7 linked regions of the Homo sapiens genome follow. The protein of the gene in region 1 purifies or fractionates together with the protein of each later gene. This does not show direct contact. Each region holds a gene or a part of one and is shown in the gene's direction. Other genes may lie near its edges. The genes, in order: IFI16, DDX24, GLYR1, PDCD11, NOC2L, GRWD1 and RBM28.

What was found.
Region 2: the proteins of IFI16 (region 1) and DDX24 purify together in Homo sapiens (affinity purification with mass spectrometry; 3 studies listed by BioGRID and IntAct, with this or other methods). This does not show direct contact.
Region 3: the proteins of IFI16 (region 1) and GLYR1 purify together in Homo sapiens (affinity purification with mass spectrometry, with the first as the bait; 3 studies listed by BioGRID). This does not show direct contact.
Region 4: the proteins of IFI16 (region 1) and PDCD11 purify together in Homo sapiens (affinity purification with mass spectrometry; 3 studies listed by BioGRID and IntAct, with this or other methods). This does not show direct contact.
Region 5: the proteins of IFI16 (region 1) and NOC2L purify together in Homo sapiens (affinity purification with mass spectrometry; 3 studies listed by BioGRID and IntAct, with this or other methods). This does not show direct contact.
Region 6: the proteins of IFI16 (region 1) and GRWD1 purify together in Homo sapiens (affinity purification with mass spectrometry, with the first as the bait; 3 studies listed by BioGRID). This does not show direct contact.
Region 7: the proteins of IFI16 (region 1) and RBM28 purify together in Homo sapiens (affinity purification with mass spectrometry; 3 studies listed by BioGRID and IntAct, with this or other methods). This does not show direct contact.

Annotation. Positions count from the first base shown.
Region 1 is NC_000001.11:159,019,508-159,024,069, forward strand, and holds part of IFI16 (gamma-interferon-inducible protein 16), read left to right. Parts: intron 1-833; coding exon 834-1,022; intron 1,023-4,562.
Region 2 is NC_000014.9:94,060,703-94,064,202, reverse strand, and holds part of DDX24 (ATP-dependent RNA helicase DDX24), read left to right. Parts: intron 1-1,581; coding exon 1,582-2,106; intron 2,107-3,136; coding exon 3,137-3,290; intron 3,291-3,500. UniProt on the Homo sapiens protein: ATP-dependent RNA helicase that plays a role in various aspects of RNA metabolism including pre-mRNA splicing and is thereby involved in different biological processes such as cell cycle regulation or innate immunity.
Region 3 is NC_000016.10:4,829,576-4,834,137, reverse strand, and holds part of GLYR1 (cytokine-like nuclear factor N-PAC), read left to right. Parts: intron 1-1,225; coding exon 1,226-1,364; intron 1,365-1,916; coding exon 1,917-2,159; intron 2,160-4,562. UniProt on the Homo sapiens protein: Cytokine-like nuclear factor with chromatin gene reader activity involved in chromatin modification and regulation of gene expression. Acts as a nucleosome-destabilizing factor that is recruited to genes during transcriptional activation.
Region 4 is NC_000010.11:103,443,370-103,447,016, forward strand, and holds the end of PDCD11 (protein RRP5 homolog), read left to right. Parts: intron 1-545; coding exon 546-699; intron 700-1,147; coding exon 1,148-1,313; intron 1,314-2,008; coding exon 2,009-2,180; 3' UTR 2,181-2,925; downstream 2,926-3,647. UniProt on the Homo sapiens protein: Essential for the generation of mature 18S rRNA, specifically necessary for cleavages at sites A0, 1 and 2 of the 47S precursor. Directly interacts with U3 snoRNA. Involved in the biogenesis of rRNA.
Region 5 is NC_000001.11:945,878-949,716, reverse strand, and holds part of NOC2L (nucleolar complex protein 2 homolog), read left to right. Parts: intron 1-1,113; coding exon 1,114-1,227; intron 1,228-1,484; coding exon 1,485-1,586; intron 1,587-3,171; coding exon 3,172-3,315; intron 3,316-3,430; coding exon 3,431-3,544; intron 3,545-3,839.
Region 6 is NC_000019.10:48,448,481-48,453,042, forward strand, and holds part of GRWD1 (glutamate-rich WD repeat-containing protein 1), read left to right. Parts: intron 1-1,832; coding exon 1,833-2,046; intron 2,047-2,185; coding exon 2,186-2,328; intron 2,329-2,553; coding exon 2,554-2,751; intron 2,752-4,227; coding exon 4,228-4,545; 3' UTR 4,546-4,562. UniProt on the Homo sapiens protein: Histone binding-protein that regulates chromatin dynamics and minichromosome maintenance (MCM) loading at replication origins, possibly by promoting chromatin openness.
Region 7 is NC_000007.14:128,333,208-128,337,769, reverse strand, and holds part of RBM28 (RNA-binding protein 28), read left to right. Parts: intron 1-567; coding exon 568-639; intron 640-1,727; coding exon 1,728-1,923; intron 1,924-2,090; coding exon 2,091-2,227; intron 2,228-4,407; coding exon 4,408-4,480; intron 4,481-4,562. UniProt on the Homo sapiens protein: Nucleolar component of the spliceosomal ribonucleoprotein complexes.

The DNA of each region.
Region 1 (4,562 bases):
GAGCGCAGTGGCGCGATCTCGGCTCACTGCAACCTTCGCCTCCTGGGTTCAGGCGATTCTCCTGCCTCAGCTTCCCAAGTAGCTGGGACTACAGGCGTGTGCCATCACGCCTGGCTAAATTTTTTGTATTTTTAGTAGAGACGGGGTTTCACTATGTTAGCCAGGATGGTCTTGGTCTCCTGACCTCGTGATCTGCCCACCTCGGCCTCCCAAAGTGCTGGGATTACAGGCATGAGCCATTGCGCATGGCCTATATACACACTCTTAAAGAGATGATTCTTACAAATCCAGTTCTAGGATGATGAGTAATGAGCAAAAAGCTGGAATGTTTGAGCTCAAGGACTTGGTTTCAGGAGGGGGTACAAATATTGGAAGAGACTCAGTAAATGCAGAAAGTAGAAAAAGTAATTAGAGAGTTACCAGAAGCTTGCTTTTTCTTACAGATTCCTCATAAGTCACTGAATAAATAGTTGTAGCAGATATCCATTCTTTTTGCATGGGGCCAGAGACCCAGAAAGGCTATCAGAGATTTCAGCTTCCTCTGTATCAAGGTGCTTTGGGAAGCAAAGCTGCCCTGTAGGTGAAAGCAGTAGAAATTTGGAAGAAAACTCATTGTTCTAGAACTGTCATAGAAATATCTCAGATATGAAAGACTTAAACAAAAAGGATATTGAGGGACGGCTTTCTGCAAAGATGTGGCCTAAGATATGTGCATATCTGTACTAGGAGTTGCTGTTGTGCATCTTGTTTAACTCTCTTAGAAGGGACTTCAGCCTATATGTGGTTGTTATTAATTACATTCTCAGGAACAGAATATTAATTTTCTGTTACAGAAAACAGTAAATCAGAAGACCACAATCTACGAAATTCAGGATGATAGAGGAAAAATGGATGTAGTGGGGACAGGACAATGTCACAATATCCCCTGTGAAGAAGGAGATAAGCTCCAACTTTTCTGCTTTCGACTTAGAAAAAAGAACCAGATGTCAAAACTGATTTCAGAAATGCATAGTTTTATCCAGGTAAGAATTAAATAGGCAAATATTAGTTTTCCAAAGTGGAAATGATTTGCTTTAAGTTTTGGCAAAAACAAGTTTGTAGGTTTTTTTTACAGAGTTCAGCGGGAGGCATGAGAAAACAGATATTCTCCTTGTATTCACATTTACTTTTTTTAATTTTTTTTTTCTGGATGGAATGATGTGATAGGATACAATTTTAAAAAGAAAGAAATCTGAACTTTATCAAAAAAATTGAACTCTGAATTTTATGTAAACTTTTAAGTGATTGTAGGGTTGGGATTTAAAATTACATGTTCTCCATTTGTGAATTAGAAAACGTCGTGTGTGTGTGTGTGTGTGTGTGTGATACTTTCTAGTTTGTAACATTACAATACACATATGTGTGTATTTAGTCCATAAAAATACCTAATTTGAAACTTAAAATTATTTGCAGTGATCAAAATTATGTCCCACTGACAAAGTTTTATACAGAGGAAGCTCTCCAATTTGTTAATTTGAATTCAAATATTCACGTGTTAAGTTTCCTTACAGTACATGATTTTACGCTGTTGCCATTTTGAATGTTGTAAATTATTTTTTATTTCAGTAGGTTTTTGGGAAACAGGTGGTGCTTCGTTATAGGAATAAGTTCTTTAGTGGTGATTTCTGACTTTTTGATGCACCCATCGTCCAAGCAGCGTACACTGTACCCAGTGTGTATGTAGCATTTTATCCCTCACCCCCCTCCCACTCTTTCCCCTGAGTCCCCAAAGTCCATTGTATCATTCTTATGCCTTTGTGTCCTCATAGCTTACCTCCCACTTATGAGTGAGAACATACAATGTTTGGTTTTCCTCTCCTGAGTTACTTCACTTAGAATAATGGTCTCCAATTCCATCCGGGTTGCTGTGAATGCCGTTATTTTGTTCCTTTTTATGGATGAGTAATAGTATTCCACGGTGTATACATACCCCATTTCTTTATCCATTTGTTTACTGATGGGCATCTGGGCTGGTTCCATATTTTTGCAGTTGTGAATTGTGCTGCTGTAAACATGCATGTGCAATGATCTTTTTTTGTATACTGACTTCTTTTCCTCTGGGTAGATACCCAGTAGTGGGATTGCTGGATCAAATGGTAGATCTGCTTTTTAGTTCTTTAAGGAATCTATACACTGTTTACTATAGTAGTTCTACTAGTTTACATTCCCACCAGCGGTGTAGAAGTGTTCCTTTTCACCACATCGATGCCAGCGTCTGTTTTTTAAAATTTTTTGATTATGGCCATTCTTGCACGAGTAATGTGGCATCATTTTGTGGTTTTGATTTGCATTTCCCTGATCATTAGTGATGTTGAGCGTTTTTCCTTATGCTTGTTGGCCATTTACATATCTTCTTTTGAGAATTGTCTATTCATGTCCTTAGCCCTTAGCCCTTTTTTTTTTTTTTTTTTTTTTTTTTTTTTTTTTTTTTTTTTGAGACAGAGTCTTGCTCTTTTGCCCAGGCGGGAGTGCAGTGGCGCTATCTCGGCTTACTGCAAGCTCCGCCTCCCGGGTTCACGCCATTCTCCTGCCTCAGCCTCCAGAGTAGCTGGGACTACAGGCGCCCGCCACCGCCCCCGGCTAAATTTTTTGTATTTTTAGTAGAGACGGGGTTTCACCGTGTTAGCCAGGTTGGTCTCGATTTCCTGACCTCGTGATCCGCCCGCCTCGGCCTCCCAAAGTGCTGGGATTACAGGCGTGAGCCACCGTGCCCGGCCCTTAGCCCACTTTTTGATGGGATTATTTGTATGTGCAATGCTTGTTCCCTGGTGCCATAAATAAATAGCATTTGAATATCAATTTAATTTTTTCAGCAAGGCCATTTTTATACTTTTTGTAGAAAGGGTACACTCGCCAGCAGTTTTGCCACAAGAGTATACGGAACAAAGGAGACAGGCTCATTTATAATCTGACGCGGCCACCCTCCTGCTGCGTTCGGTTTCCATTGGCTGGGACGGGACCTCACCTTCTGTATTTGTCCCGACTGGCTAGCACTTAGAACTTTTTAAAAGAGGCAAAGGCATAGGAGAACAAAGGAAGGAGGAAGTAACTTGTGGAATATTGAGAAAGGTAAAAACACCTTTAAATAAGGAAGAGGAACAGGCTATGACCTAATGCTTGCTTGGATCAGTATAAGCATGTTAGGGCAAATATTTAGGCTAAATTGTGGGAGCTAAGAACATAAAGTATATTGATTTTTTATTATGGCTAGCAGATATTTAAGAATGTTTGTACAGGTCTTTGAATAAATTTTGCTTTTAAGAGAAGTTACTATTTATTTCTAATTAGATGGGGAGGAAAGTTTTTGAAGAGGAACCTCTACTTTTTACAATTTCCCCTCATTTCATAATTCTTCTTTAAACTTGTTTAATATGTTTTGACTTAATTTTTTTTTGTCCTTTTAAGAGAAGTAATTTTTCAGAATAGGGTGGAGGAGAATTAGGAGTTAACTCTGCAAGAGTGGCAGAGATAAGTTTTTGTATAAAATTTCAAAGGCAGGGAATAATATAACAGCCTACAAGAATAAGTACACCAATAACAAGAGCAAACGAGGTGAGAATTGAAGTTAAATTTTTTTTTTATCCGCTGAACCAATGTTTTATTATTTTAGAAAAAGAGTTATTTATTTTAGAATTGTTGGCAAGTTTATCGGATAGGGCTGTTAATCCTTGTAGCACTTTTGTTATAGTTCTATCAGGGGCAGTATTAGGAATAAAGGTATAACATTGAGTTTTAATTATGACACAAACTTCTTTTTTTGCTAATATTATATTTAAAGCTATTTTATTTTTCTAGACCATCTGGCTGGTAGGTCCTAATTGCTTAGCTTTCTCTTTGATGGCGTCCTCAGTGTAATTTATGAATCGTTGCTGATTATAGTAGATATAGTTTATTTAGTCTACTTAAAAAAAATTTATAGTTACTTAACAGAGCAACATGGATTTAAACTCTGCAGCTATTTGATTTTGTGCTTTAAACTTATTTGGCACTTCTCATAGGACCTTAATAGCATTTATGTAAACCTAACGTTTAAAGGACTCATGAGGAGTTTCCTTTGGCCTGCAGTGTCTTGTTTTTACCTTTTTTTTTTTAGGTTGGTGAAATGCCAGGGTGCAGGGGATAGCCAGTTGGATTAGAGCATAAGTACTGCTCCAATTATTTGGCAGAGTGTCTAGTAAAAGTCCTCTACAATATCACCATACATTTGCTTGGGGATGGCTAAGCGTGGACTGATGGGCAAGCTCTTGGAAAGGCTTGAGCTCCTTGCATCCTTTTATGCTTCTAAGGAACACCAAATTTTACTCTTGCCGTGAGAGGCACAAAGTAAACTTGGCATTCAGAGGTGGAAGCAGGCTTGCCCTCGGGGGCGGACCCCCGGGGTATTGAGTTTCAGGAAATAACAGATAGAGAGCTCAGCATGATGGATTATCCTAAACTGTGGGATTTTGCAAGAGAGCCACCATATGTCCATTTCTGGTCAATGAGGAGACCGTCCGAGTGGAAAGGGGATAATCTGGCCCTCT
Region 2 (3,500 bases), on another chromosome or scaffold:
ATTTTATCTTTTTTGTTGTCTTATTAGCTATAATTCTTAACGTCTTTTTAGTGATTGCTTTGGGGTTTATAGTATATATCTTTTATTATAGTTTACCCTCAAGTAATTTACTACTTCGCATACAATGTAAGAACCTTACAAGAGTATTTTCCATTTCTCCCCTCCTTTGTGCTTTTTGTTGTATACTTCATATGTGTTAGAGATTCTAGAATACATTTTTATTATATTTGCTTTAAACAATTATTTTTAAAGATGTTTAAATAAGAAAAATAAGGGGTTTTGTTTTTTTGTTTGTTTTTAGAGACAGTATCTCCCTCTGTCACCCATGCTGGAGTGCAGTGGCACGATCATGGCTCACTGCAGCCTCAAACTCCCATGCTCAAGCAATCCTCCTGCCTCAGCCTCCCAAGTTTCGAAGACTACAGGAGTGTGCCACCATGCCTGGCAAATTTTTTTAAAGATGGGAGTCTCACTATGTTGCCCAGGCTGGTCTTGATCCTCCCGCCTAGACCTCCCCAAGTGTTGGGATTACAGGCATGAGCCACCATGCCTGGCCATAAAAAGAAGTTTTTAAATATTTACCTACGTAGTTACTGTTTCGGTTGCTCTTTATTTCTTTGGGTACATCCAGATTTTCATTTTATGTTATCTTTGCTATTGCATGAAAGACTAATATTTCTGATAGCTTACATTTGCTGCTGGTGAATTATTTCAGCTTTTATATGCCTAAAGTCTTTATTTCACATTTTGTTTTGAGTGGGTGTAGGGTTATAGATTGTCAGGGTTTTATTTTTAGGCATTCAAATAAAAAATATTGCTACACTGTCTTCTGGCTTTTCATTGTTTCTGATAAGTCTGCTGTTCTTCTTATCAAAAGTTTCATGTGTCTGTTTTTGCTCTCTTTTTTCCTTATAGTATCTTATTTTTGTGTGTGTGGTTATTTTTTACTGAGAGCTGCTTATTTCCTTTGAAAATTGTGAAAATTTTTGGAGATGTATGGTAATGGTTTCTCCCTTGAGAAAGCATTTATTGGCTTCTGCCTAGGGCATTATCACTTTGGAACTTCTTTAAATTCTCAGCCTGAGATGTTTTGTTTTGACCACCCAGATGATTTGGACTCTGTGTACATTCAAAGGCCAGTTTGAAAATGTTCAGGCATAGACAAAAGTTTTATATTTACATTTTCTGAAAACTTAAGAAAATTTTCTTTTACTCCTTTCTCACCAAAGAAAAGTCTTGGGAAAGTATTGTATGGATTACTGTTTCCTGCTCCTCACAGAAACAACACATACACCCAAAACTTGCCCTTTCTCTCTTTATTGTTTCATTTCTTGGACATTTGTAATTCGTTACTGGTGACCTAAGACCTCAGTGCTAGCCTGCCATACTTTTCCTCGGGTTCTAATTTACATGTGCCTTCTGGTTCCTTCTGGGGAAATCTGTGTAGAGTGGAGGAGCTTTGGGTCGGTCAGGGTGGCACTTGGCTACCTTATTCTATGCAAAAGAATGAATTCCAGACTAAAGTATGTTCATCTGTTGATTCACACTGTTTTTACTTTGTTTTGTTTTTTTACTTTTAAGGAAGTGGGAAAACTCTTGCCTTTGCCATCCCAATGATTCATGCGGTGTTGCAGTGGCAGAAGAGGAATGCTGCCCCTCCTCCAAGTAACACCGAAGCACCACCTGGAGAGACCAGAACTGAGGCCGGAGCTGAGACTAGATCACCAGGCAAGGCTGAAGCTGAGTCTGATGCATTGCCTGACGATACTGTAATTGAGAGTGAAGCACTGCCCAGTGATATTGCAGCCGAGGCCAGAGCCAAGACTGGAGGCACTGTCTCAGACCAGGCGTTGCTCTTTGGTGACGATGATGCTGGTGAAGGGCCTTCTTCCCTGATCAGGGAGAAACCTGTTCCCAAACAGAATGAGAATGAGGAGGAAAATCTTGATAAAGAGCAGACTGGAAATCTAAAACAGGAGTTGGATGACAAAAGCGCCACCTGTAAGGCATATCCAAAGCGTCCTCTGCTTGGACTGGTTCTGACTCCCACTCGAGAGCTGGCCGTCCAGGTCAAACAGCACATTGATGCTGTGGCCAGGTTTACAGGTGAGGTTTAGTTCCATTTAATAAATATTTTCTAGGTAAATCCCAAATGCTCGTTGGTAAAGATGAATGAGCTGTGGCTCCTGCCCTCTAGGGTAAGCCACTCTCATCTATAAGCCAGACAATTAAGCCCTACAGAAAATTGATATAGTGACATTTTTTCAGTTCCCTCAAGGATAATACATGGTTGGTGCCATTGTGGATGCATAGGAAATTTATTGGATACAGTAGATGCTCAGGGCAGGGATTAGCAAACTGTCTGGTTTTATAAATAAAGTTTTGCCGGAACACACCCACACCCATTTGGTTTTATATTGTCTGTGGTTGGTTTTGTACTACAAAGGTGAAGTTGAGTAGAGTTAATAGTTGTGACAGAGACCATCTGGCCTATGAGGTCAGTAATGTTCACTAGTGACCCTTTCAGAAAAAGTTGGCTGATCCCTGCTCTAAGCTATTAGGATTTAATTCTCTCAGGGAATTCACTCTGGGAAGGGCTTCACTCTGGGAATCTTAATTTTATAATGAAAGCAGCAATTAATTACCAAGTTGTTACTATTGCTAAGCCCTTTACCCACATGATACTATGAGAATTTCTGCACCAGAGACGAAAACAACAGGGCATTAGTGGACCTTTCAGAATAATTCTAACTGAGGGAATGGAAGGGCTTCCTAGGAGAGGTGTAGCACAGCTGCAGGTCATATTCCTCCCAGCATTATGGTGCCCCAGTGCTCCGTTTTCCCAGAGCTTTGGAGGTAAGCATACCTGGGTTCAAATTCAGCCCCTTTGGTGTGGTTGGAGGGGAGGGAGTAGAAAAGAAATGAGGCTGAAGAAGTAGAGCTCAGATCACAGAAGACTTGGTAAGCCCTCTAGGAGTGGCGTCAACAGTCTGGCCAGGCCTGCTCTTTTAGCAATGCTCTAGGGCATTACACTGTGCTGATGTCTGTCTCTGCTAATCTGGGGTGCCTGTGTCAGCCATGTAAGAAAATGATCACCCAGATTGAATAAGTGTCCCTTATGTTTTCTGTCCCATAGGAATTAAAACTGCTATTTTGGTTGGTGGAATGTCCACGCAGAAACAGCAGAGGATGCTGAACCGTCGTCCTGAGATTGTGGTTGCTACTCCAGGCCGGCTGTGGGAATTAATTAAAGAAAAGCATTATCATTTGAGGAACCTTCGGCAGCTCAGGTAATAGATGGCACTTCTCTTTTCCCCCTCACTGCCTTTTCTGAAATGAGCCTTAGGTGACATGGTGTGGGCAATGCCTTCTTCTCATCGCAGAATGCTATGGTGTGGTATCATCCAGACCCTGGCCTTTAGAAAGCCAAGAGTGCATGAGGGAGATTAGTTGAGGGCCTGATGGTGGTGGTGGTAGTGGGGTGTGTACGTGTGTGTGTG
Region 3 (4,562 bases), on another chromosome or scaffold:
CATTATCACAACTACCAGCAGCACACTCAAAGTCCAGGTAGCTGGTGGAGGGTTAGTAACATTATTTTTATGTGCAAAGGTTAACACTTGCTGTTAGTGAATATTCTCTAGCTTTCTATGAAGAAAACAACCTGAAGCTTGTGAGATAGCTGGGTTTCTGTATCCTTAACCTGACCTACTTTTTCTGAAGGTTATGCTGTGAAACCTGTATCACAGGCTAAAACATGTAAACTAACTGATACCTTGTAAAGCCTATAAAATTATTTTGTGCTTGGATTCTATAAGCTGCATGCCATTCAGGGAAGCCATAGAAAGCCAGCTGCAGCAGATTTGTTCAGGTTAGTGTGACAGATCAGAAACCCCAGAATTGACAGCTGACTACTTTCACTTTCATGTGTTACACATTGATGGTTGAAATTAAAAATTACATATCGGAGGTGTATGTTCTTCTACCTTTAATCTCAAGCATCTTGTTTCTATTTTTTTTTTTTTTTGAGACATCATAAAACAGCATGCCATCTTGTTTTTAAATGCCTCCTTTTGTAACTGCTGCCCTTATTCCAAACCATGTGTTCCGTGTTTTGTGTGGTTTAGTAGCCATGGTTACCATCATTTATGAACAAATATAGGCTCAGTGGCTGTGAATATCCATAGGAACCACAAATTTTAGAAGATGTTGCATTTCTTCAGCTCTGTAACATCCCTGACTCTCTGTGGATCAACAGATCATAAATCTGGTTCCCATTGTTGACAGGCAGCAGGCATTTTCCTGCATAGTAATGCTGCTATCATCTATCACATTTCCAGGTACCCTGATTCCCAGGGATCTGTGTGTGGCCATTTGTGCTGCCTGGTGAGAATGGGAAAGGGTCTCCAGATTTCTTTCTGCCCTGAGCAAGTGGCAGCGTATATGTGGTTGGGCATTGGAGGCTGATAGACGATTGTGGAAATAAATAATCTGCAACACAGTGCTTTCACTGGAGGAACTTGATTTGTGGTTGCTGCAGTGGTGGTGATGGTTGTTCTGCTTGACTTGTTTCAAGAAAATATACTTTAGACATAAGACTCTGAGATGGTTGATAGCATGTTTTGAAAGAAATGGCAAGGCCTATTGCAAAGTCCAGTTAAACCAAATGGATATTTACACCGTGCCATAGTGAGGTTGTTGATACTTTAGGGCATATGCTATATGGTTCACACCCTTTTTGTGTTTGTTTTCTGCTAGTGCCTGGATCAAAGTGGAACAGCTGAAGCCATATCATGCTCATAAAGAGGAAATGATAAAAATTAACAAGGGTAAACGATTCCAGCAAGCGGTAGATGCTGTCGAAGAGTTCCTCAGGAGAGCCAAAGGGAAAGACCAGGTGAGAGACACAATGTTCACTTTCTACCAATGCCAGACTGGTGATTTTTGCATAGCAACTAACAGATTAAATGTCACCCAAACGCAAACCTTTGTTCTTCTGAAATGCTACTGGAGAAAGCTACTTCAGTTCTAAGGTGTCAGCGTTTTGCTTATCAGTTTGAAACTCCATGCAGCTAACCTTTCTGGAGTAGGTTGTTGCTTTTAGGAAAATTGCTTGGACCCAGGAGAAATATCTCAGCATTTGAGTCTAGCACAGGCCATTTCTTCCTTTCATAGCACACAGATTAGGAGCATAGCCTCTGAAATACATATACTGCCTAGATTTAAATCCTTTCTTCTAGTTTTGGGACATAGGGAAAGTGACTTTTGATATATATATTTTTTAAATCTGCTTCTCCCAATGTCTGGGACGACAGCAGAATCTATTTCTAGGGTCATTGTGAGGAGACCACACAGAGTGCCTGTAGCAGCACATGGCACCTGTAAATGATGGTGGCGATGGCGGCAGCAGCTGTGGTGGTAGTTATCATTATTATTATTAAACTTTCAGACGTCATCCCACAATTCTTCTGATGACAAGAATCGACGTAATTCCAGTGAGGAGAGAAGTAGGCCAAACTCAGGTGATGAGAAGCGCAAACTTAGCCTGTCTGAAGGGAAGGTGAAGAAGAACATGGGAGAAGGAAAGAAGAGGGTGTCTTCAGGCTCTTCAGAGAGAGGCTCCAAATCCCCTCTGAAAAGAGCCCAAGAGCAAAGTCCCCGGAAGCGGGGTCGGCCCCCAAAGGATGAGAAGGTTTGTTTTCTCTCTGCAGCTTCCGGGATTAGTGATGTCCTTTTAGTACAAGGTAGAGTTAAGCTCTACAGTATGCTTATGTAGTATGCTTATCTATACTCTGCTCATGGAGTGGGAGCAGAATTCTGTGCTCAAGAATCCTGCAGGGCAGGTGCGGTGGCTCATGCTTTATCCCAGCAACTCAGGAGGCTGAGTCAGGAAGATGGCTTGAGCCTTGGAGCTCAAAGTTGCATTGAGCCGATTGCACCACTGCATTCTAGCCTGGGTGATGGAGTGAGACCCCGAATCTTATTTAAAAAATTAAAAAATAAAGAATCCCATAGACCAGGTGAGAGACACGGCCTGGATGCAGGTGTAAAGTAGGAGCGCGAGGCAGGAGAGCAGTCCACTTGAGCCGGTGCACAAGGGCTGGCCCTGGGAGGGGCTTAGCAAGAAAGAAGGGTAGGCATTCCAAAGATGGAGGGCACAGCCCGTGTGAGGCTCGGTGCTGGTGGAGATACTCTCGAACAGGGAGAGGATAGTGAGGAAAGCCGAGAAAAAGGAAGCTTGTCCCTGGATCGTGGAGGGCCTGAAGGTCTACTGAAGCAGCGTGGTACTAAAGCGTCTTGGAGTCAGTGGGGGCCCGGGAAGGTGACTGAGCCAGTGGCAGTGTGTGCCTCCCGTGTGTGCACCAGTAGTCACCGAGTGCAGAGGGGAAAGTCTCAGAGCCAATTAGGAGGTAAGTCTAGGCGTGCATTCATAAGGGGGTAATTGCAAATGTTGCAAGCAAAGAGGTGAGAGGCACTTCAGAGGAAGAGTTCTTAAGATTCCATAATTGGTTATATAGAGGATGAATGAGAAAAAGGAAAAGAGGATTTCCATCTTCATTCCTGGGAAAGTGGTCATCACTTTCTTAAAAGTAGAGGACTGGGGATGTAGAGGTGGCTTGTGGAGAAAGAGTACCAGTTCTGTTTGGAATGTCAAGAACTTGAGGCAAGGCCTAGACAGCCTGGGAGCTTGGTGTGACCTCAGGACTAGAAATGTAGATTTGGGAGGTGAATTTGTAAAAGGGTAGTTGAGTCCGGGCAGTGGAATGGGTTTGTTTCAGGAAGAGAGGGAGAAGAGGGAAGCGCGGAGGCCTGCATTGCCACAAGAATGCCGTGCTTGGGGCAGGAAGGAGCAGGAGGAGCTAGCAAGATGAGATAAAGCAGTGAGAGTGCCTCTCTCGCCTTCTTGCTGACAAGATTTGGGGCCGGTCTTACAAGGCCACAGAGAAGAATTTCAAAGTGAAGGGGACTGTGTCAGGAACGCGGTAGGATTGTCAACAGCAGGATAAAGAGAACAGAAGCCAGATGGCTGGCAGCAACAGTTGGGTGACGAGGCCATGATGGAACATTAGACCTTGGATCAAGGCTCAAAAATTCAGACACCAGCGAGCCCAGGCAGGTAATGGAAGCAACTGTAGCTGACTGGACCTAAGAAGCAGTGGCACGGGTGCCAGGCACCCCAGCTGACCTGCCTTGGTGCTCAGAGCAGCAGGGCTGGCCATGGTCAGGGAGTCTGGGGAGGTCATGCTCTGTCCACAGGGTTCTAGCCAGCTTCTGCCAAATTGTCTGTTTTTTCTCAAGAGAAGCTGGGAAGGCCAGTTGTGGTGTCTCATACCTGCAATCATAGCACTTTGGGAGGCTGAGGCAGGAAGATCACATGAGCCCAGGAGTTCAAGACCAGGCTGAGAAGCATAGTAAGAGCCTTTCCCTTAAAAAAAAAAAAAAAAAAAAGACAAAGTTGGCCAGGTGCAGTGGCTTATGCCTGTAATCCCAGCATTTTCGGAGGCTGAGGTGAGCAGATTGCTTGAGCTTAGGAGTTGAAGACTAGCTCTACAAAAACTAAAAAATTGGCCAGGCATGGTAGCTCACACCTGTAATCCTAGCACTTTGGGAGGCCAGTGCAGGAGGATCCCCTGAGCCCAGGAGTTCTAGACCAGCCTGGGCAACATAGGGAAACCCCATCTCTATTAAAATTTTTTTTGCTGGGTGCAGTGGCTCACACCTGTAATCCCAGCACTTTGGGAGGCCGAGGCAGGTGGTTCACCTCAGGTCGGGAGTTCGAGACCAGCCTGACCAACATGGAGAAACCCCGTCTCTACTAAAAATACAAAAATTACCCGAGTGTGGTGGCACGCTCCTGTAATTCCAACTACTCGGGAGGATGAGGCAGGAGAATCACGTGAACCCAGGAGGCAGAGGTTGCAGTGAGCCGAGATTGCGCCACTGCACTCCAGCCTGGGCGACAGAGTGAGACTCCGTCTCAAAGAAAAAAAAAAATTTAATATAAATGAATTAAAAATTAGCTGGGGTTGGTGGTGTGTGCCTGTAGTCCCCCCTACTCAGAAAGCTGAGATGAGAAGATCACTTGAACCCAGGA
Region 4 (3,647 bases), on another chromosome or scaffold:
CCAGGGCCACAATCTCAGAGAAGAGCCCCTGGGGTGCTGGGTCCAGTCCTGCTGTGAGCTTGCCACCCAACATCGGGGCCCCAACTTCCCTATCTTCCAAGTAAAAGAAGTCATTTCCCTCACCTCTTCTTCAGGCCTGTGGGGTCAAGGTGAGGGAAGGAGTGGCTTTGGAAGTGAAGGGGCAGTGGACCCCTGGTGTGTCTGCCTTGGGCTGCTGGCAGGGCATCACAGACAGAAGGGGACGTCCCGGCCCAGCATCCGCTCTGGCGTCTCTCCTACTCCCCCTTGTCATTCTCATGTTCTAGGCTAGGACCGCCCTCCCATGGGTGCGGATCAGCAGGGAATCCCCTCCGTCGTGTTGTGCCTGTTCACGGTGCCCTTCTGTGAGCCTCCCTCCCGCTCCTCTCAGGTCTCTAGCATTAGGCCCTGAGAGTGATTTGGTGTCTGGGAGCCCAGGTCTAGCTTCTTGTGAGTGTTGCTGCTTGTCTGTCTTGTCCCCTCTGTAGTATCACACTCTCCTCAGCGTGCCTCGTCTTTTCCCACAGGAAGCTGGTGAACTCTACAACCGGATGCTGAAGCGTTTCCGGCAGGAGAAAGCTGTGTGGATCAAATACGGCGCCTTCCTTCTGCGGAGGAGCCAGGCTGCAGCCAGTCACCGCGTGCTGCAGCGAGCCCTGGAGTGCCTGCCTAGCAAGGAGCGTGAGTGCTCATTCCCAGCTCCTGAGCCCATGAGCACTCCAGGATCGGGGAGTAGGAACTGGCTGTGGCATTGCTTCTTCTAAGTCAGGAGAGCCTTGTGAGGGCTTTCCTCTTGCTGCCTGTTGATTCTCTGCCCCTCAGCATAACAGTGCATGTTAAATTTCAAATGTCAGGCTCCAAAAGATGGAGGAACAAAACGCAGTTAGTACTAGTTCTGTTGCCCCTGGGATCCCCCACCTCTTCTGTGCCCAGAGAGTGGTGTGTCTGCAGTGCCCATCTGTGTATTTGGCCCCAAACCCACCCCTTTTGGGTCTTTGTCCCTCTTGTCACAACCTGAGTCTTGGGACCCAAGAGCAGGGAGTCAGGTGCACGCTGACCCTGCGGAACACTGTGTTGTGGTGAGGGGGCTGTCTGCTTGTTGGGTCTCTGAGCAGTCCTCTCCCTGCAGATGTGGATGTCATTGCCAAGTTTGCCCAGCTTGAGTTTCAGCTGGGGGATGCAGAGCGGGCCAAAGCCATTTTTGAGAACACGCTGAGCACCTACCCAAAGCGCACAGATGTCTGGTCGGTCTATATCGACATGACCATCAAGCACGGCAGCCAGAAGGACGTCCGGTGAGTGGGGCAGCTGGCCAAGGCCGAGTTCCTCAGGAGAGGGCGTGGTAGGCACTGGTCCCACAGCAGCTCTCAGCATCCCAGTTCTCTTACTTGATCTAGAAAACCAGCTAGATGTGATGCCCCAGGCCCAGTGACATTCACTTCAACTCCTCTTTCTGCCTCAAAGGCCAGCATCTGGTCTGTGTCTGAAACCATTGGTAGGAGGTAGCCTTGTCAAGAGACTCGAGTTTCTCTCATAATTAACACTGTTCCTGACTCTCATTGTAGACTACTTTCACAGGCATTCTCTTGCTTTTGACCCCAGCGTCTCCACAAGACAGGGAGGGTTTAGAGATGAGTAGACTGAGGTCCAAAAAGAACAGGTGCCTCACCCAAGCCCTTCACTATGTATGTTTCTCACTGTTGTGTCCCCCATCCCAGTAGCTTTGTCTTGATCACTGTGTGGCTTTAGGCAGGGAAGTCCCTTACCATCTCTGGGTGTCCATCTGCTCATCTGGAAGATGAGGGTGGTAGTGCCTCTCCCCAAGGCATCATGGGAGTTCATCATGGATTAATAAAGATAATGGTAGAAGTGGGAGTCCTGGATGGGAGAGGGTCCTGGTTCCAGGGCTGAGAGCAAGTGGGTGAGTGCTAGGCAGGAAGCACGTGACCTGGGACTGACAGGCAAATGCCACTCTGCTTTTCCTCAACAGGGACATCTTTGAGCGGGTCATTCATCTGAGCTTGGCCCCCAAGAGAATGAAGTTCTTCTTCAAGCGCTACCTGGACTACGAGAAGCAGCATGGCACTGAGAAGGATGTGCAGGCAGTCAAGGCCAAGGCCCTGGAGTATGTGGAGGCCAAGAGCTCAGTGCTAGAGGACTAGTGGCAGGCTGGCTCTGTGGGACACTGTCAACAATGGGCCAGCCCGGCCCCGCCTCGAGTGCCTGGGCACTCGGAAAACTGTTACCTCAGGACTCTATTTAAATGCTGCTTTTTCTGCAGCACGCTTGGGGAAATCCTGTCAGGATGAAAAGGAAGTTGAGATTTTTTAAATCCCTCTTCGCTTGCTTTATTTTCAGTACCAACTTGTTATCTTTTTCCTTATCTGAGGCTACCTGGGGATTGTGGGCAGCAGGCCCCTGGACTCCCAGAAATGCTGAGGGTCCCTCTTCCAGGGGAGTTCCCTGGGGAGCAAGAGTAGAGGGGCTATTCCCGAGGGTCCTGTGGTCAGGGTCCTGCTTTGTCCCTGGCAGGCTGTCAGTCCAGCTGGAGGGGGTCAGTAGGCTCCAGGGAGTGGGCCCTCCCCTCCGATCTTGGAGTCTCTGGGTGTTCCTTCAGCCTCAGCCTCACTGGTACCTTCTGCCCTTTAGGGGAGGCTATGAGTCTGGGACAGGAGGACAAATTCAGAGCCCAGAGGGGGAAATGGAGAAACCTGGGCTGCTGAGGAAAGCCACGGGTGTTGGCGTGAACTGATGATGTCTCATCCCACGCCCACTATGGCCACATTACCTAACCTCTCCATATCTGGGCTATTCAAGGTCTTGGAGGCCAGCACAGACCCAGCTAGTTGTTGAAGCCAGTTCTTTTTTGTCTTGGTCATGAGGGAATTAAACGTTTTCTCTGGCAGAGCTTTAAGTGTCCTGAGAGCTTTTCCATGGGAAATGACTGAGTCATATGCCAGGAAGCCGGACAGGGCCAAGGGAGAGCATCCAAAGGTTCTAGAGGTGGGGCGGGTGGCGGGCAGGGATGGGAGGAAGGAGAAGCTGGGGCTGGCCTGCTTCTTGGACATGAGCACTAGGTTACGAGAGCTAGTTCTGGCCTGCCCACTGAGCGCAGAATCTTCTGACTCGTGAAATTTCAGACTGTTTCCTTCTGAGAAAGGCCAGGCTTCATCTCTTCCCCACACCAAATCAGATAATAGAACCCAACTGCAAAGAGATCATCAGCCCCAGAGCCTTCCCCTGTGTTGAACCCCTGGTACTCACTGCACCCTCCCTGCCACCCCTGTGGGCCATTTTAGTCCTGTCCCCTTCCCTAACACGGCATAGGATTTGGGCCTGGCCCTATGACCACCAGCCTGCTGTGGCATGCCCATTCAATCACACAGACACCAGGCTAGTCCTTTTAGTAAGAAAAACTTTATCAAAAATTTAAATATATAAAATAAGGCCAGAGGCTGCACTGGAGGCCACTTCCCAGTGGTGCACTGCTGCGCTGGGTGTCCCTATGCAGCTAGATACATGTTAACTGCATAGAGTACCATAAAGGAGCCCACTGGTGAGCTTCACTGTCACCTGGCCCTGCTGGCTGGGGCTTCCATTGTCTACTGGGTCTGTCCACACCCCAGATT
Region 5 (3,839 bases), about 160 Mb from region 1:
TCCAGCTCTGCTGCCCAGCTCCAGGCATGCTTTGTGTCTGTTTCCCTTGTCCAATCTCCTTGGCTACGTGCTTTCTTACTCTCTTGCAGTGTCTGTTTCTTCACTTGTGCACTGCCCTGGTTCACTGCAGCCGCACCCTGTAGGCCCCTCTCACGCAGGGATGCAGGCCTCTCCTCTCCGGAAAAAGCAAACCCTAAAAGCTAAAACAAAGCCCTCAGCTGTAGGCCGTGCCTGCCCTTCCCCGGTGCCTGGACAGGAAGCCAGTCGCCTGCCCATACTTTTGGCCCAGGCTAGAGAAGGGCAGTGTCCTCCCAGAGGTTCATCAGTACCAGGGCGTTTTCCCATCTGGACCTGAGCTCAGCTGTCTGGCAGCCACCCCTGCTGAGTGGGGTGTCTTGCTGGGGCCTCCACCCTTGGGCCCCCCATAATCTGCTTCTGTCCTCTGGTGCCCCAGCATGTACCCTGGATCTCTCTGGTTCACAGCCTGAGGGCTCCTAGTGGTTGGGGAGGGGTCACAAGACTGAGAGGCCAGGCTGACTCTTTCTCTGCTCCTCCTGGCATGTCCTACGGAGGTGCATGGCCTGTGGCTTCTGTGGAGGGTGTGGGAGGGGCCCCCCAGGCCTCCCGTGACCTCCATCTGTCCCGTCCTGTGTCTGGCACTCTTTGCTGTTGCTGCTGCGTCTTCTGGTTGCTCGGGACGGAGCCCCATGTGGCATTGCTGTGCTGAGGGCCAGGATGGGCCTCAGTGCCATGTTGTCAGGAATGGGGGCTGTCCTGGTACTCTGTGTGGCAGGGACCTCTAGGTCTCCAGACGTGGGTCCTTAGTGCTTCCCAGGATTTTGGGAGAGGGCCCGTGTTCCTGATCCTTCCCTGCTGATCAGAGCCCCACTCGGGGACACGCCAGGCTGTGTGGGGCCATGGGGCTGGGACCGTGCCTAGCTGCTTATCTCTTGTTTCGGGTTGGGTCTCCTCGTGCTGAAGCCTGAGGACCAGGGTGACCAGGGTGCAGCCAGGTGCAGGGCCAAAGGGACCAGGGGGACCAGGGTGCAGCCAGGGTGAAGCCAGGGTGACCAGGCATGGGGCCGAGAGAGCCTGACACGGCCCTTGGGGCAGATGTTCCAGCAGGTCGACTTCAACAGGAAGCCAGGGCGCATGAGCTCCAAGCCCATCAACTTCTCCGTGATCCTGAAGCTGTCCAATGTCAACCTGCAGGAGAAGGCGTACCGGGTGAGGCTGGCCTCCTGGGGAGGGGCCTGGGCAGTTCCCAGGGTGGGGTTGGGGGTGCTGAGGTGGATGGGAGGGGGCTGGCATCCTCCAAGTTCAAGCATGGACCTTCATGGTCTCCCAGGGCTGGGGCCCAGGAGCCCCTTCCTTGCAGTCCGTGCCCTGGAGATGGCGCTGCCCTGACAGCCTGAGGGGAAGGGGCCTGAGTGCCCAGCCCCAGCCTCTCCCTGATGCACTCGGCCCTCTCTCCTGCTCTTCAGGACGGCCTGGTGGAGCAGCTGTACGACCTCACCCTGGAGTACCTGCACAGCCAGGCACACTGCATCGGCTTCCCGGAGCTGGTGCTGCCTGTGGTCCTGCAGGTGTGTGTCCTGCCCACACCGGCTCGTGGCCGACTCAGACTGTCTTATAACGGGCTTGGCTGCCCCAGGCTGGTAGGAGGTGCCCTTGTCCCGGGTACCTGGGACTGGGGTGGAACCTGACTGCTGGCAACGCGCCCCGTGAGGCCCCCTTGGAGGGGCTGATGAGGGGTTCTAAGCCATTCAGGAGGTTTGGGGGCAGGCCTGGGCAGTGGGCTGAGGACCCTGGGAGCACAACAGCCTCCTCCCCAGGTGGGAACCACAAGGCTGATCTTTGCTTCGGGGTTGGGACTGAGCATGCCGACCCTGGCTCAGGCTGGTACGCTGATCGCACACTTCCCCAGGCCATCCCGGGTGTGGGGAGTGGGTGGAGTGGCTTCTCAGGTGGCAGGAAGGCCTGGCCTGCCCCGCCAAATACCCCACATCAGCCTCATAGGAAGGCCCAGCCTGCCCCGCTAAATACCCCACGTCAGCCTCATCTTAGGCAGGAGTGGGGTGGAGGAGGGGGTTCTCCTTATCCTCAGAAGGTCCTTCTGGGCCCCCACGGGAGGTCTGTTTGCTCTCAGCCGTGATGTTTCCAGCCTCAGGGAGGCCTGTGCCTAGTGGAAGGGGTGGGGGCCCTGCTGTCTGGCCCTGGTGGCTGGAATCAGATGTGCCGACTATAGGTCTGTGCAGTGTGGGGAGGAGGGATCTGCTCACATGAGCCACAATTGGTCAGAGGCTTATCCAGATAGAGGTGTGTGCATGTGTGTGTACTCACACACGGCCACACATGTCACATGCACAGAGCCGGGACCCCCTTTCTGGGGGGCACTCACAGCAGGGGCCACAGCCTCTGTTCCTCCCATGTCCTCTTGGGTGGTGATACCTGGCATTGGGGCATCTCTGCTTCTGGACTCAAGGGCCCAGGGTCGGGGTCTGGGGTAGGGGTCAGAAAATGTTTTTGGTGAGGGGCCAAATGGTAAACGTGGCTTCCTACGGATGTTCAGCTGCACAGGCAACTGCAGAACCATGCAATGCACACGTGTGGCTGCACGTCAGCGAGACTGTATTTTATTAGTAGTAGTAGTATTGTTTGAGATGGAGTCTCGCTGTGTTGCCCAGGCTGGAGTGCAATGGTGCGATCTCGGCTCACTGCAATCTCCATCTCCTGGGCTCAAGCGATTCTCCAGCCTCAGCCTCCCAAGGAGCTGGGTTTACAGGCGCCCACCACCACACCCAGCTAATTTTGGTATTTTAGTAGAGACGGGGTTTTGCCACGTTGGCCAGGCTGGTCTTGAACTCCTGACCTCAGGTGATCCACCCGCCTCAGCCTCCCAAAGTGCTGGGATTACAGGCGAGAGCCACCACGCCTGGCATAAAACTTTATTTCCAGAGGTGAGTAGTGGGCAGGGTTGGCCCAGAGGGTGGGCTGATTCTGCCTCTGCCATCCCAGCTGCAACAGCTATGCACTTGAGCCCTGAGATGGGATCCATGTCCCCTCCTGGGGTATCCCCGTGGCCACCACGCGTGGTTTTGCACAGGACCTGGGCCAGCTGTGCACATGGAGCGGTCCTGGGCTTCAGTGGCTGACCCCTCCCTTCCGCAGCTGAAGTCGTTCCTCCGGGAGTGCAAGGTGGCCAACTACTGCCGGCAGGTGCAGCAGCTGCTTGGGAAGGTTCAGGAGAACTCGGCATACATCTGCAGCCGCCGCCAGAGGGTTTCCTTCGGCGTCTCTGAGCAGCAGGCAGTGGTTAGTGGGCCCTGGGGGTAGTGCCACCTGAGGGCACCTGCCAGGGTATAGCCCCAGCTACATGTGGGGGTTTGCCCAGGGTGAGGCATGACCCTGAACTCCCCCAACCCCCCAGGAAGCCTGGGAGAAGCTGACCCGGGAAGAGGGGACACCCCTGACCTTGTACTACAGCCACTGGCGCAAGCTGCGTGACCGGGAGATCCAGCTGGAGATCAGTGGCAAAGAGCGGGTGCGGCTCGGCGAGGGGACCTGGGGGTGTGTTGTGACTTCCTGGGTTTCAGATCTAGCGCACTATGACTTGAGACCAGGGCGAGGGTTTGGAAACAGTGCCAGGCGGCCAGGGCCGTGCCCGGATGATTCGACTTGGAGAGGGGGTAGGTGTTGGAGAACTGGCCAGAACCAGGCGTTTCCAGGGAGGGGAAGCCCCAGGCTGCACTAGGTTGGGGAGGCCATGCCCCCTCAGGCCTGATGGGCTGGAGGCTCCGGGCAGGTGGAGTGGCTGGACTGACCTCGTCACCCAGGCC
Region 6 (4,562 bases), on another chromosome or scaffold:
AACGAGATGAAACTAAGTAAATGTGTACCATGTCCAAAGGTGTTAACTATCCTGGAAAAAATCCAATGAAGTAGGGGAAGAGGGTTAGGGTGCTCCAGGAGTGGGGTGCTATTTTTAAACAGTGTGGTTAGGAAAGTATTCTGTCATAAAATGCCATTTGCATAGATACTCACAGGTAGTGGGGCAGTGAACCCTGTAAAAGAATTTGCAGGCAAGGAAAAACACAAGTTCAAAGGCCCTGGGGTGAGCTTGGCATGTTTGAAGAGTTTCAAGTGAAGCGGGAGTGTCCAGTCTGTCTGGAGCAGAATGAACAAAAGGGAGAATGACACAATTTGGGGAGCGGGCACAGAGAAGACATTGTTCAGAGCCTTGTCGGCCACTGTAAGGACTCCAGCTTTTAATTGGGAGACGTTGGAGGGTTTCAGGCAGAGGAAAGACAGGGTCTGACTTCTGTTTTAAAGTGGTCCCTCTGGCTGCTGTCCTTAAATATCAATTGCAGAGAGGTAAGGGTCGGAGGAAAGAATCCTGTGGGGAGACTTACGGTATTCAGGGGAAGGATGACATCAGTAGTAGTGTGACAGCAATAGACATCATGAGAAGGGGGTTGGAAGTGAGCTTTTTTTTTTAGATGAGACAGAGTCTCGCTTTTGTCGCCCAGGCCGGAGCGCAATGGTGCGATCTCGGCTCACTGCAACCTCTGACTCCTGGGTTCAAGCGATTCTCCTGCCTCAGCCTCCTAAGTAGCTGGGATTACAGCCACCCACCAGCACGCCCGACTAATTTTTGCATTTTTAGTAGAGGCGGGGTTTCATCATGTTGGCCAGGGTGGTCTCGCTCCTGACCTCAGGCAGTCTGCCCTCCTCGGCCTCCCAAAGTGCTGGGATTACAGGTGCGAGCCACCGCGCCTGGCCCTGGAAGTGAGCATTTTTACTGTAGTCAGCATAGGTGCTGGGCATGAGGACCAAGAATGAGTTCTGAATTTTGGGGCCTGAGGTGGAGAGAGAGCAGTTGCAGGTGGCAATTAGGAGCTTGGCTTTGGTTGTATCAAGTTTGAATGGTCAGGCTGGCACAGTGGCTGATGCCTGTAATCCCAGCACTTTGGAAAGCTGATGCAGAAGGATCGCTTGAGACCAGGAGTTCCAGACCAGCCTGGGCAATAAAGTGAGACCCTGTCTCTACAAAAAAATTTTAAAAGCCAGATGTGATGGTGCTTACCCATAGTCCCAACTACTTGGGAGGCTGAGGTGAGAGGATCACTTGAGCCCAGGAGGTTGAGGCTGCAGTGAGCCATTATGGCATCACTGCACTCCGTCCTGGGCAACAGAGCGGGACCCTGTCTCAAAAACAAAAAAGTTTGAACGGTCAATGCAGTAAGAGTCTGGAGCCCAGGGGAGAGGTCAGGGCTAGGGGTATTGGAAACCTCGTGGCTGGACTGGGTCTCCTAGTGAACAAACACAGAGGCAAGGAGATCCGAGGACTGAGTCTTGTGGCCTTCTAGCATTTAGAGGGTTACCGAGACCAGGAGCCTGAACACCCTCCCAAGGGCTGGTGGGAATTGCAGCCTCAACTCCCAGGCATCCTGGGGCTCTATCCTCCCACCTCAGCTCCCCCACCCACTCCCACCCCCTGTGGAGAGCTGTCCCAGTTACCATGCTGGTTTTTGCAGGTTGTGATTTTCTTCCCACAGAGGTTTCAAGGAGCTGTAGTCCCAGGCCTGGGAGATCTGAGGAAGCGCACTTCTGGTTCTCTGGGATATGGGGAGCGTGGGGTCAGTGCCTTGATCCTCCTCTCCCCTCGCTTCACATCACCCTTCCCCCACCGCTCTTCTGCAGGTGTCATGGCTGGGTGAAGAGCCTGTGGCTGGGGTGTGGTCAGAGAAGGGCCAGGTGGAGGTGTTTGCGCTGCGGCGGCTTCTGCAGGTGGTGGAGGAGCCCCAGGCCCTGGCAGCCTTCCTCCGGGATGAGCAGGCCCAAATGAAGCCCATCTTCTCCTTCGCTGGACACATGGGCGAGGGCTTTGCCCTTGACTGGTCCCCCCGGGTGACCGGTGAGTCCCTGGGGTGTTCAGGAGTCCCGGGAGGTCGGGGGAGCAGGGTCTGCAACAAGGGGCCGGGCGCTTAGACTCCAAGGAGGGGAGCGAGCTGCGGCCAGGTGGGGCGAGGTCATTTCCTGACTCCCTTCCCCAGGTCGCCTGCTGACCGGTGACTGTCAAAAGAACATCCACCTCTGGACACCTACGGACGGCGGCTCCTGGCACGTGGACCAGCGGCCATTCGTGGGCCACACACGCTCTGTGGAGGACCTGCAGTGGTCACCGACTGAGAACACGGTGAGGGAGGGTGGGGTTCTGGTCGTTTAGTTCTGATGGATTCTAGGCCAGGGACCTAGAATCCTAGGTCTGAGGGAAAAGAGGGCTGGGAGCCTGACGGAGGTTTAGTTTCCAGGCCAAGTCATAGTAAGGGGAACAGTGAAAGAGAGAGTAGCCCACCGCTGGCGCTTGGGCTTCACTGCGGGCTGGGGGGCATTGGGACCACTCAGACTCCGCCTCCCCCAGGTGTTTGCCTCCTGCTCAGCTGACGCCTCCATCCGCATCTGGGACATCCGGGCAGCCCCCAGCAAGGCCTGCATGCTCACCACAGCCACCGCCCATGATGGGGACGTCAATGTCATCAGCTGGAGCCGCCGGGAGCCCTTCCTGCTCAGTGGCGGGGATGATGGGGCCCTCAAGATCTGGGACCTTCGGCAGTTCAAGGTATTTTCCCAGCCGGACACCTGGGGGCTAGAGAAGCTTGCTCCCAGCAGCCCCTGGGATTTGTAGGATTTTTCCTCCTTGAATAGTTTTACACAACCAGAGCTGGAGAGCCCTTAGAACTAGACTCCTGCCTCTTCAGGGTACAGAGGAGGAAACTGAGGCTCAGCAAGAGGAAGGGTGGCGGGTCTCCACTCTTGGGGTCACTCACTCTACCAGGGGAACAGCTGACAAGAGATGGAAGGGGCTGGGGCAGCAGAGACTAGGACTCTCATCTGCCTGTGGGCAGAAGTACAGGTGTCTGTACGGCCAGTGCTGAGAGCTTCAGAGAGTTGTAGATTTCTAGATGCAACTGAGAATCGGGGCCCAGCCTGCTCGTTGTAGGAGAAGACTGAGGCACAGAAAGGACAGGAGCCGCTGTGACATGACAGCCAAGCTAGAGGTTGACATTGTGGAGCTGGGAGGGTCCCTGTGCAGGAGAAGTTGCAGCGTCCGGCATCCCTCTGGACAAAGCCGCAGCTTTGTGTGGCTCTGCCTTCCCGGGCTGCCATGATGTCATCCTTTTTCTCCTCCAGTTTGATCGTTTCTATAGCGTCAGCCCTGGGGAGGAGGCTGGAGACGGATTCCAGCCTCCCAGGCCCACCAGGTCACACAGGGCCCAGCTTGTTGACCATTGGAACTTCAGAGCAGCCTCTCCTAATGAGAGAGACGCCAATTGAGCGGGGCCTTTGCTGTAGTGAAAGTGCTGTCATTCTTAGTCTTTCTTTGGGTCGGCTTCCGGGGATTGTGTTTCTGCCTCCTTTGAGGCCTTTGTAGAATCTGCTGGGAGAGCTCTGGGAGAGCCATGCCCTCCTTTTTTTCTTTTTTTTTTTTTTTTTCTTTTTTTTTGCGATGGAGTTTTGCTCTTGTTTCCCAGGCTGGAGTGCAGTGGCGCAATCTCGGCTCACTGCAACCTCCCGCTCCTGGGTTCAAGCGATTCTCCTGCCTCAGCCTCCTGAGTAACTGGGATTACAGGCATGTGACACCAGCCCGGCTAATTTTGTATTTTTAGTAGAGATGGGGTTTCACCATGTTGTTCAGGCTGGTCTCCAACTCCTGACCTCGGGTGATCCACCCGCCTTGGCCTCCCAAGGTGCTGAGATTACAGTCGTGAGCCACCGCACCCAGCCCATGCCCTCCTTTTACAAGGAAGAAAACAGGCAGGCAGAGGGAAGAGCAGGGGCGGGGGTTTTGCTACCTGAGCTGGGAGGGGCTTCTTTGCAGGTGAATCACAGTTCCCAGCAACCCCTGGGCTGGTCAGCCTTCTTAGCAGCCAGAATTACCCTGTGTCCCTTTCCTGGACTCTGGGCTTGTGAGGGCTTAAGGGGTGGGGCCCTGGCTGAACCCTGAGGCTGGAGAAGGGTTGGGGCTTCTGCCTGGGTCCTCCCCAGAGTCAGGCTGAGGCATTCAGAGCCCGTTCCTCCCATCCTCTCCCTCTAGTCTGGTTCCCCAGTGGCCACCTTCAAGCAGCACGTGGCCCCCGTGACCTCCGTCGAGTGGCACCCCCAGGACAGCGGGGTCTTTGCAGCCTCGGGTGCAGACCACCAGATCACACAGTGGGACCTGGCAGTGGAGCGGGACCCTGAGGCGGGCGACGTGGAGGCCGACCCCGGACTGGCCGACCTCCCGCAGCAGCTGCTGTTCGTGCACCAGGGCGAGACCGAGCTGAAGGAGCTGCACTGGCACCCGCAGTGCCCAGGGCTCCTGGTCAGCACGGCGCTGTCAGGCTTCACCATCTTCCGCACCATCAGCGTCTGAGGCGTCCCACTGGCTCT
Region 7 (4,562 bases), on another chromosome or scaffold:
CCTGGTCAACATGGCGAAACCCCGTCTCTACTGAAAATACAAAAATTAGCCAGGTGTGGTGGTGCATGCTTGTAATCCCAGCTACTCAAGAGGCTGAGGCAGGAGAATCGCTTGAACCTGGAGGCGGAGGTTGCAGTGAACTGAGATGGCACCACTGCACTCCAGCCTGGGCGACAGAGCGAGACTGTGTCTCAAAAAAAAAAAAAAGAAGTTATTGCCGTAGAGATGTCCTAGCTTCCAGGTAGGGTGCAGATGATTCCAGAATGCCTGTTTTGATTCCTGATAGTCTAACTGGAAACATAGTTCTAATTCTTTATTTTTTTACTCCATCTTATCCCAGGTGTGGTGGCTATGTAGAAAGGCAAAATTTCTGTTCATTGATAAAAAGGTTAAGGGTTAAAAGGAGTAGGCAGTGACTAGGAGCTTTATTTTAAGACCAGCATTCCCTGAATTGGCAGTTTCTTTGTCTCCACTGGTTCCATTATTGTCTGTGATGACTAGGGGTCATTTACAGAGGTAGGGTTTTTAAAAGGAGAGCCTTTCTGATGCCACTTTTCTGCTTGACAGGCCGGACAGTGGCTGTGGATTGGGCCGTGGCAAAGGATAAATATAAAGATACACAGTCTGTTTCTGCTATAGGTAAGATGTGGTAGTGTTGGGTGAGTAGGGGCGTTGTATAACCTGGGTGAGAGTATTGAAACAACTCCTGTGTTCATGATAAAAGTGTAAGAAAAAGGCTGGGTGCAGTGGCTCTTGCCTGTAATTCCAGCACTTTGGGTGGATTGCTTGCAGTCAGGAGTTTGAGACCAGCCTGGCCAACATGCAAAACCCCATCTCTACTAAAAATACAAAAATTAGCTGGGCTTGGTGGTGGGCGCCTGTCATCCCACCTGCTTGGGAGGCTGAGGCAGGTTCTTGAACCTGGGAGGCAGAGGTTGCAGTGAGCCGAGATCACCCCACTGCACTCCAGCCTGGGCAACAAAACGAGACTTCGTCTCAAAAAAAAAGTGTAAGAGAACCTGCTTATCAGAGTAAGACTATTGTGGAAGATTAACCAAAAGAATGAGACTGGGCTTTCAGGGAAAACTCTGAATTCCTGCTGGCTCAGAAGTGAGTCCAGGTCTGTTTGTCAATTCATATTGTACCATTTGGTGCTCTGGTCCCAAAACCTAGGCTCTTTTGAGTCTAAGCCCCTTCCTGGGAGTGGCTGTGAGTGAGCCTGAGTTCACTGTCCCCTTTACTTGCTGTTGTTTCCAGGCTGTGCATAATAGGAGTGATGGAACATTAAGAATAGAGAAACTTAAAACTTGAGGTTTATTTAGAAAACAATTGGCTGGTAAGCCACCAGGGTCTCAGAGAATAGAACGCACTGAGATTAAAGTTCATGGCTTGGCTTTGCCCCCTAGTGAGCATTTTGCTGGCTATGATGTACGAATGGTAGACTGCTTGGAGAGGCTCAGTTGCCACTTCTTTCAGTCTGGGCCAGATGAACCTTCAGACTGATGAATGGGACAAACTCTAAAGGAATCTGGGTGTTGAGAGTTTTGTTTATTTCTGTTTTTGCTTTTTCTTTTCTTTATACTTTCTCCTGTTATATGCAGTAAGAAAAATATACGAAATTCTGTAAAACCGATGAAACCAAGAACTTGGAGTATTGGTTACTTTTGTTAAAATAACATTGTTTTGGATATTAAATGAATTCCTCCTTTCTTTACCTCCCTCCATAGGTGAGGAAAAGAGCCATGAATCTAAACATCAGGAATCAGTTAAAAAGAAGGGCAGAGAGGAAGAGGATATGGAAGAGGAAGAAAACGATGATGATGACGATGATGATGATGAAGAAGATGGGGTTTTTGATGATGAAGATGAAGAGGAAGAGAATATAGAATCAAAGGTGACCAAGCCTGTGCAAATTCAGAAGAGGTAAGCAGCTCATCCTGTTCTGAGACAGCAGAGGAAGATTCAAGATTGTCTCCGAGAGGAAAAATTCTCCTTTTTCTGCCTGCATCATTGCAGAATTGACATGTGTAATGAAATTGAATAGGCCCTCTGTCAGCCCACCTCCTTAGTTCTGATCTGTGCCATTGCAGAGCAGTCAAGAGACCAGCCCCTGCAAAAAGCAGTGATCATTCTGAGGAGGACAGTGACCTAGAGGAAAGCGATAGTATTGATGATGGAGAGGAACTGGCTCAGAGTGATACCAGCACTGAGGAGCAAGAGGATAAAGGTTTGTTTGGATTTTCATAAATGTCTTTAGACTTTAAAAAAGTTACTGAAGTTACGGAAATGAGCATCAGTTCTGCTTAGATCTCTTTTTAAATAGGACTCTAAGGTGTTCTATCAAATTTATGTTTAAATGCTGAAAAGGAAACCTTTATACTCCTTTCTTCCAAAGGTTTTTTTGTTGTTTCCTTTTTGTTTGTTTTGTTTTTTAAGTGAGTTTTGGAGTGGTGTTTGAGGGTTAAGATTCTTAGGGAATTGAAAACCTAGCTTAATGCTGAGGTTCTACCTCTCTCTGGATTGTCCAACTTGATAGAATAACCAGGTAAACAGCATCTTATACAGATAATATAGATGAAACAGATGATATAACCATCTCAACATCAAGCTAGATTTTAAACAACTCCTTGGAGTTGAGATGGGGATAAAGAACTGTTTAGTCAGTTTGGACTGACATAACAAAATACCATAAACTGGGTGGCTTAAACAGCAGAAACTTATTTTCTCACAGCTCTAGAGGCTAGAAGTCCCAGGTGCCAGCTGATTCATTTTGGGTGCAGCTCTCTTCCTAGCTTGCAGACTGCTGCCTTCTCGCTATGTGCTTGCATGGCCTTTTCTTTGTGGCTTGACGAGGGGAGAGAGAGAACAAGTAACAGTGAACTCTGGTCTCTCTTTTCTTATAAGCACAGCAATCCTATCAGATTAGGGCCCAACCTTAAGACCTCATTTAGCTAGCCTCAGTTACCTCCCTAAAGTCTCTGTCTCCAAATACAATTATATTTGGGGTTAGGGCTTCAATGTATGAATTTTGGGGGAACACAGTGCGTTCCATAACAAGGACCTCTTTGAACATGTTGTAAAACTTTAGCCAATCCTTATTGCTACCTTTATTGAGAATAAATTCAACTTGTTTATTGAGGAAGGCAGGTCATTACAGAATGAGAAATGGCTAATAACTGGTTCTTTGATTTGTCTGGGTGGAGATTTTTATTTCAGCTGTTTTTATTCTGATTCCATTTCAGTAAGTCTGACATGTTGGTTTGACCATATAAGAAATCTGAGGAAATAAGCTTTTTCTGTGAGGAGAGAATGGTATACACCTTAGAATCAAAGAAGCTTCTACACTGAAGGGACTCTGAGATCCTGTATTCTACAACCCACAGTCAGCTGTCTCATGCCATTCTTTCACCTAAAAAACTTATAGGACAGATAAATGATAATGATAAAAAGTTAAAACACAACACAGAAGAGTGTAATACACAAAGTAGAAGTTTCTCACCAATCCTAACAATTCCCTGAAGTAATCACTGTTGTTTCTTGTGCATCCTTCCAGATATTTTCTTTGTATGTATAAGCTTATATGTCTGTTCTTGAAAACAAACAGTGAGTCTCCCTTATACCCAGATCCTCAGCTTCTTAGGGAACTTCCCCAGAGACAACCAAGGTTATTTGTTTCTTGTGTATCTATAGATATTTTAATACATTTATAAGCAAAATGCACACATATACACACACATATACACATTCAAAATGTAGTGTATTTTATAATTTGTGTGTGATTGTATGTGTATGTTTTTTCCTCAAAGTTTCCTATGTCCTATACAGTATTTCCAGAAAGTTTACACTGTCATAGTAGTATATGGAAATGTCTTTTTCCCATAACCTTACCACATTGGATTCCATCAGTCTTTTTGATTTTGCAATCTGTTGGTGAAAAATAGTATCTCATTTCTTGTGCTATGTTTTCTTTAATTAAGAGTGAGTTTGAACATCTTTTCATATACTTAGCATGTCCTTTGTCTATTTTTATTTTTATTTATTTATTTTTTTTGAGACTTTGTTTCGCTCTTGTCACCGTGGCTGGAGTGCAATGGCTCAATCTTGGCTCACTGCAACCTCCACCTCCCAGGTTCAAGGGATTCTCCTGCCTCAGCCTCCTGAGTAGCTGGGACTATAGGTGCCTGCTACCACGCCTGGCTAATTTTTGTATTTTTAGTAGAGACAGGGTTTTGCCATGTTGGCCAGGCTGGTCTCGAACTCCTGACCTCAGGTGATCAGCCCGCCTGGGCTTTTCAAAGTGGCATGAGCCACTGCGCCAGGCTTATCTTTATGTACTTAAGAAGTTAGCTCTTTGTCATGTGGCTTACACTAATCTCTTTCAGTTTGTTGTTTTTCTTTTTACCTTAGCTGTGCAAGTCTCAAACAAAAAGAAGAGGAAATTACCCTCTGATGTGAATGAAGGGAAAACTGTTTTTATCAGGTATGTCTTTCTGCCTCCAGAATTGCTTTTGCGTGGTCTTCATAGATCTCTCTTCCTTCTTCTTCTCTTTTTGGCACTAGTT